Linked DNA regions of Homo sapiens. The protein of the gene in region 1 purifies or fractionates together with the protein of each later gene. This does not show direct contact. Each region holds a gene or a part of one and is shown in the gene's direction. Other genes may lie near its edges.

Region 1 (3,500 bases):
ATGTCACTAATTATACATCTAGGTCATAGTTTTCTTAAAAATAGAAATAGCTTTATTACATTTTCTGATTGTAAAAGTAGTATGGGCTCATTGCAAATAATTCAGAGAATACAGAAAAATAGAAAAAAATCACCCATAAACTCACCACGCAGAGTTCACTCTAAGTATATAGTTGGGTATAATGTTTGGGTATGTACCTTTTCAAAGTTTTTTTAGATGTTTGATATGTATAGCTAAATATTTTCATGTCAGTAAATATGCTCATAAATCATAATTTTTAATGGCTACATTGTATCCCATTATGTTGTTGAACTATAATTTAACCAATCCCTATAGTGCTTCTGGTTGGGTATTTTTACTTTTGACATTATGATGAGGATCTTTGGACATATCTTTGCATACTTGTCCATTACTTCCTAAGATAAACTCCTAGAGGTGTAATTGCTAATTCAAATAGTATGAACATTTTCAAAGGCTTTTCATATGTATTTCCAAATTTCTCTCCAAAAAGGTGTTCCAGTTCACTCTGCCAGCATGTGTTTGTGTCCCATATTCTAATACCATTCTTTTTTTAATAGTGGTCTGATTTATGAAAAATGTTATCTATGAAAATAATATTTCCTTAGTTAATAATGAAGGTTGTTTCCCCCATGTTGATTGACCATTGGTATTTTGGTAAATTTCCTGTTCATGTACTTTGTTCATTTTCAAAAATTGACATGGCCCCTTTATTCATTTGAAAGAATTATACATTAGGAGTATTAACTGTTTCCACATATTTTGCAGATATTTCCCCTAAATCTGTTAATGTTGAAAACTACTGGTTTGATTATAAATTTGTATATTAAATTTTTACCATCAGTGTGAAATTCAATAAGATAGAGTTATGGAGATAGTGTCTAATGCTGCAAACAGTCTGTGTAGTACGATACAGTGACCCAGTGTTGTTCTTTTTGTTAACAGGTAAGAAAAGAAGTTTTTGTTTTACGTTTTCTCAAATTCCTTTGGAGTAGAAGTGTTTTATCTTCATTCCTCAAGGCACCAAGCCTAATGCCATTGACCCCTTTAAGAATTCGTTTTTGAATTGTCTGAAACTTTTATTGACTTCATAATATCTTGAGTATTCGTTCTTATAAGTTAACTTAGTTACCTGGATCTTTGTTTAGAATCCTGGTTTCTTCTTTTTCTGAGGAGCAGCTGAACCGTTATGAAATGTATCGCCGCTCAGCTTTCCCTAAGGCAGCCATCAAAAGGGTAAGGATGGACCACCACACTTCATCTCCATCACGTTTTAGAACTGAACTCAAGAGCCATGTCCATTGGCATTTGAAGTGAGGTGTTAGACAAGTCAGGGGATTATTTAGGTGGGAAAAAAAATGCACTTCAGTTATCTTACCTTTTTCTGTGAATTACTTGGTACTGTGTTCCAAAGCCAGTCTTTGACTATTGTGATCACGGAGTCTTTGTGCTTCTTTCAAGCTGATCCAGTCCATCACTGGCACCTCTGTGTCTCAGAATGTTGTTATTGCTATGTCTGGTATTTCCAAGGTTTTCGTCGGGGAGGTGGTAGAAGAAGGTGAGTAGTGTTGGTTACAAATACTGGATTGTACCTGTGGTGGTCTTATTTTTAAGAATATCTACACAAAGGAGCTTATTAAAGCACCTATGGGAGTTCTCATTTGCACTTGAAGTTGACCAAGTGGGGAGCCCTTTATTTAGGAGAACATGACTGTTATTCCTTGCAAGTTTCAATAACAGATGGTAAGGAACCATCTGGGAAATCCCCTCCCTGATTCCTTTCCTCAGCCCAGGGTGAAAGAAGTAGACTTTGTATTTTCTGCAGTGGACTTTGCTCATTTCTGCTGCCAAAAGTAAAGATACAAGAAAAGCAATCACAGGGGTGACCTGTGTGGGATGGTGAGTTGTCCCTAATGTTGTGATCCCTAGGAACTGCCTGACCCCTTTATTGAGTAAAAAGCCTGGCTGTTTCCCATTGCTACTCTAGCTGGTGAAATTTTTTTTTTTTTTTTGAGCAGGAGATATATACTTTTAAATTATTATTATTTTTTGAGACAGGGTCTCACTCTGTCACCCAGGCTGGAGTGCAGTGGCATGATCTTTATTATTTTTTTTAATATTTTTTATTTTTCCTTTTACAAATCACAAATTAAGATGGTATACAAAATGAGATGGTAACAGTGGTGTGATCATAGCTCACTACAACCTCAAACTCCTGGGCTCAAAGGATCCTCTTGCCTCAGCCTCCCAAGTAGCTGGGACTGTAGGCGTGCACTACCATACCTGGCTAATTTTTAATTTTATTTTTATGTAGTTATTTGAGACAGGGTCTCACTCTGTCACCCAGGCTGGAGTGCCTTGATCATGCGATCACAGCTCACTGTAACAGTTAGCTCCTGGGCTCGGGTGATTCTCCTGCCTCAGTCTGAGTAGTTGAGACCACAGGTGCGCACCACCACCCCTGGCTAACTTTTTAATTTTTTGTAGAGACAAGGTTTGGCCATGTTGCCCAGGTTGGTCTCGAACTCCTAGGCTCAAGCAATCCTCCCACCTTGGCCTCCCTAACTGCTGGGATTATAGGCATGAGCCACAGCATATGGCCTATAGGAAATATATTTTAAACTGTTGTCTATGATAAAGCCTGTTATGAGACGTTATACTAATATTCTCTTAAAAAGGAAAAATGTCTGTTTATTTCCTTAGCAAGCTTAAGAAAAGTTAACAAGAATTACAGGACTCAAAAGGATTATGTGATTAGTAAATTATTGTGTGATAATCAGACTTTCTCCTTACCCTCTGTTTAGCACTGGATGTGTGTGAGAAGTGGGGAGAAATGCCACCACTACAACCCAAACATATGAGGGAAGCCGTTAGAAGGTTAAAGTCAAAAGGACAGATCCCTAACTCGAAGCACAAAAAAATCATCTTCTTCTAGACCAAAGTCTAGAAAGGCCTATGTTACTGACGGAAGAAGTATTGGTTCCAGACTTCCTATAAGACTGTCTGCATTGGTGCTTTAGTATCTCAGGCCTCCAAGGATTCCATGATGATTTTAATGTCTTTCTCAAAACTCTGATATTTGTCACACCTAGAAAGTATGTAGCCTGATTGATACTTGCCTTGACTAAATTTTGGGACCTCTTGGGGCATTTTGAAGTATTTAACTGTCTTGACCAGTTGGAAGAAGATACGTGGGCCATAAGCATCTTCTGGACAGGGGAACTGCTTTCAGAGAGAAAACCTTTCCAAGAGAGTTTTGTTTTGTTTTGGTTTCGTTTTGTTTGAGATAGGGTCTTGCTCTATCACCTAGGCTGGAGTGCAGCGGCATGACTGCAGCCTTGAACTCCTGGGCTTAAGTGACCCTCCCACCTCAGTCTCCTGAGTAGCTAGGACTACAGGCACACACTACTGTGCCCAGCTAACTTATTTTTATTTTTTATGGAGATGGGGTCTTGCTTTGTTGCCCAGGCTGGTCGTGAACT
Region 2 (4,032 bases), on another chromosome or scaffold:
CCTTTTTTTTTTTGTTTTTTTTTTTTTTGGAGATGGGGTCTTGCTCTGTCACCCAGGCTAGAATGCAGTGGCATGATCTCAGCTCACTGCAACCTCTGCCTCCCGAGTAGCTGGGACTACACGTGTGTGCCACCACGCCTGACTAATTTTTGTATTTTTTGTATAGATGGGGTTTTGCCATGTTGCCTAGGCTGGTCTCAAACTCCTGGCCTCAAGTGATTGCTTACTTTGGCCTCCCAGAGTGCTGGGATTACAGGCATGAGCCACTGCACCTATTTCTATCCAAAGTTTGAAAGTTACTTAATGAAGAGACCTAGATTCTGCTGTGGTTTAAATAAACTTATAGATACTGAAGTTACTAATGATCTATTATAGGGTTTAGATGATTATAGAAAAGTATAATACAGTGTTTACCAAATTGATATTGAGGGAATACAAATAAGTTTAATACTGAGATATAGTAATTTCATATTGGAAAACAGGCACTTGGGCTTTAAATTGATTGTATCCTGGATATTGGCAGGATATAAGTAAGTGATACAAGCTGTCTTCAACTGAAATACTTGATACACTTTTGATTGGTTTTAAGTTGTAAAGGTATGAAATACCACATTTTGTTTCACAAGTAGCTGATTTGTTAGCAGTGTTTTTTTCCATTCCTCTGCATTTCCAGAAAAGCGTGGTTGCCTTACGACAACTTCTGCCTAACTCCCAGAGCTTCATCCAGCAATGTGTTCAGCAGACTTCTAGTGACATGGTCATTGCTACCTGTACTACAACAGTAACAACTTCTCCTGTGGTGACAACTACAGTGTCCTCAAGCCAGTCTGAAAAGTCAATTATTGTTTCTGGAGCAACAGCACCCAGAACTGTGTCAGTGCAAACTTTGAACCCACTTGCTGGTCCAGTGGGAGCAAAAGCTGGAGTTGTGACACTTCATTCTGTGGGCCCAACTGCTGCAACAGGAGGAACAACAGCTGGAACTGGTTTGCTTCAGACTTCAAAACCACTTGTGACATCTGTGGCAAACACAGTGACCACGGTCTCACTGCAACCTGAAAAGCCAGTTGTCTCTGGAACAGCAGTAACACTGTCCCTTCCAGCAGTAACTTTTGGAGAAACTTCAGGTGCAGCTATTTGTCTTCCATCTGTGAAACCTGTTGTTTCTTCTGCTGGGACCACATCTGACAAGCCTGTTATTGGGACTCCAGTTCAAATCAAACTTGCCCAGCCGGGCCCTGTCCTTTCACAACCAGCTGGGATTCCACAGGCAGTTCAAGTCAAGCAACTAGTGAGTAACATTTTGTTTCTTCCCCAGTTACTTATTTTGAAAATTTTGAACATTCAGAAAACTGGTAAGACTAGTAGAAAACTAGTAAGGCTATATACTGTTTACGGGTTTGACCAATTAATTTTTTTTTTTTTTTACCTCATTTGCTTTGTTTTCCTCTTTCTACTCACACCCACAAACACACATATAAGTCCTTTTTTTAAAGACAGAGTCTTACTCTGTCGCCCAGGCTGGAGTGCAGTGGCACGATCTCGGCTCACTGTAACCTCCACCTCCCAGGTTCAAGCATTTCTCATGCCTTACCCTCCTGAGTAGCTGGAATTACAGGTGTGCACCACCACGCCTTTCTAATTTTTGTATTTTTGTTAGAGATGGAGTTTCTCCATGTTGGCCAGGCTAGTCTTGAACTCCTGGCCTTAAATGATCCACCCGCCTTGGCCTCCCAAAGCACTGGGATTACAGACAGGCAATGAGCCACCACGCCCAGCAGCAAACACACACGTAAGTCTTTACTGAACCACCTGAGAGTGGTTGCAAAAATTATGACAGTGCATGGTGTATATCTCCTAAAAGGTTTTTTTTGTAAAACATAACCACAACATACCTGTTGTCACACACAGGAAATTAATATTGGTACAGTATTTCTGTAGTTGTCCCAATAATGTGTTTTTATTTTTATTTTTTTGTAGAGAGAGGGTCTTGCTGTGTTGCCCAAGCTGGTCTCAAACTCTTGGCCTCAACTGTTCCTCTCGACTTAGACCTCCCAAAATGTTAGGATTACAGGCATGAGCCACTGTACCTGGCTCATTTAATCTAGAATACTTCTCTAGCTTTTTGTGGTTGTTTATTATATTGTAATGTTTTAAGTGCCCAGAATATTTGCAGAATAGTCCTTTGTTTTGTCTGATTGTTGTGTTTTTTTGCTAAACTTGGTAGGTTGGGAGGTTCTTGGGTGAAAGAAGGAAATTTTAGCTGTTTGTCGATTAGTGTTTAGAATGTTCTTCTTTATTTAAGAAAAGGTAAGTTTTACCAGAAGGCTATGAAAGTATTGTTAACTCATGGGAGATACTACATGATGCATTAATTAAAAATCATAACGTTTTTAGTAAAGTTCTTCCCTATCTTCTACGATAACAGAGCTTGCTGTTCTTTTGGTGAATGTCCTTGTTCTCTTTTGTAATGCTTTGCATTAGACGCTGTGTTTTAAATCTCTGTTTTGGTTCATTCTGCTTCTTGGGTAGCCTTTCCAGCCCTGTTTGTTTTATCAGAATAAGAGGTATCTGAGTGATTGTCGTCTGAGGCAACAGGGCAGCTTTGGACATAGAATGAAAGGGGTTGATCCGTGACCAGAATTGGAGAGTAGTCAGACTCTTGAGCAGATAAATGATGGTCATTTCCTGGGCACTAATCTTTTCTCATCCCTTCCCACTCTGCATCTCATTTTCAAGTGGGGAAATGTAACTGCCTTGCAGGATTTCTCTTGGGTACGTGAATTTAATCTCAGAGATGAAACAACATTTTTAGAAGCAGTGATTCTTAAACATTGTTCTGGGCAGCCAGGTTTGAGAACCACTGGAATAGAGGAATTGCCCCAAGGAAAGGCCTCTTTTTGGTAGCACTGAACAGAATTGAAATCCTCTTTATATGTCATAGTTGTTTCTTGAATCAATGCTAATCTTTATTGAGCATCTATAGCATATAGGTCCCTGGGGTGAAATAATACTTTATAGCTACATAGTTTTAAAAGCATGTCATTATATGCTATGGATTTTAAAATAATTTTATGATAAAAAGGTAGGGAGAAAACTAAGAATCCAGAAATTCTGAGCTGACTCATCCAGTAACAGTTAAGTGGCCGGGCGCAGCGGCTCATGCCTGTAATCTCAGCACTTTGGGAGGCCGAGGCGGGCGGATCACCTGAGGTCAGGAGTTTGAGACCAGCCTGCCCAACATGGCAAAGCCCCGTCTCTACTAAAAATACAAAAATTAGCCAGGTGTGGTGGTGGGCACCTGTAATCCCAGCTACTTGGGAGGCTGAGGCAGGAGAATGGCTTGAACCCGGGAGGCAGAGGTTGCAGTGAGCCAAGATCGCACCACAGCACTACAGCCTGGGTGACGAGCGAAACTCGTCATCTCAAAAAAACAAAAACAAAACAAAACAAAAAACAGTCAAGTAATGGATCTCAGACTAGAACCCAGATGACTTTTCCATTAGGGTATGGTGCTCTTAGAAAGAACTTCTAGGTTTCTGGAATGTCCTGAAGCAGGAAGCTGTCTCATGATAATATCTTGACAGCATTTTTGTTTTGTAGGTTTGACTTGTTATACATTATAAATCATTTCAATAAAGAAATAATGCAACAAAATTTGATGGTAAATTTTAGGGTTTTTTTACTTCCTACCTTCATTTTTAATAATTTCATTTTCCCTGTGAATTCTGCTTTCTTGTTTGTCCTTTGTTTCAAGTTTAGCCAGTAAATTTGATGTTAGTATTTACACCTACCTGTTTAAAGTGGCAAGAGCCAGAGTGGCCAGACCCTGAAGACAGATTGTAATTTATTTCACAACAGATTTACCTGGAGCAAAACAACATAAACCATTCTATATGGTAATGCCATAGAGAAGATTGAACTAGGGCATTCTTTCAAATAAACTAAGTTAGAAAATTAATATTACTCGTTTGAAAGTAATTAAAGAATACCATCAGTGAATCTATTATAAACCATAGTCCAATTTAATCC

The links.
Region 2: the proteins of TAF11 (region 1) and TAF4B purify together in Homo sapiens (affinity purification with western blotting, with the first as the bait; one study listed by BioGRID). This does not show direct contact.

The regions. Positions count from the first base shown.
Region 1 is NC_000006.12:34,878,043-34,881,542, reverse strand, and holds part of TAF11 (transcription initiation factor TFIID subunit 11), read left to right. Parts: intron 1-1,166; coding exon 1,167-1,254; intron 1,255-1,479; coding exon 1,480-1,576; intron 1,577-2,822; coding exon 2,823-2,953; 3' UTR 2,954-3,500. UniProt on the Homo sapiens protein: The TFIID basal transcription factor complex plays a major role in the initiation of RNA polymerase II (Pol II)-dependent transcription.
Region 2 is NC_000018.10:26,285,209-26,289,240, forward strand, and holds part of TAF4B (transcription initiation factor TFIID subunit 4B), read left to right. Parts: intron 1-673; coding exon 674-1,291; intron 1,292-4,032. UniProt on the Homo sapiens protein: Cell type-specific subunit of the general transcription factor TFIID that may function as a gene-selective coactivator in certain cells.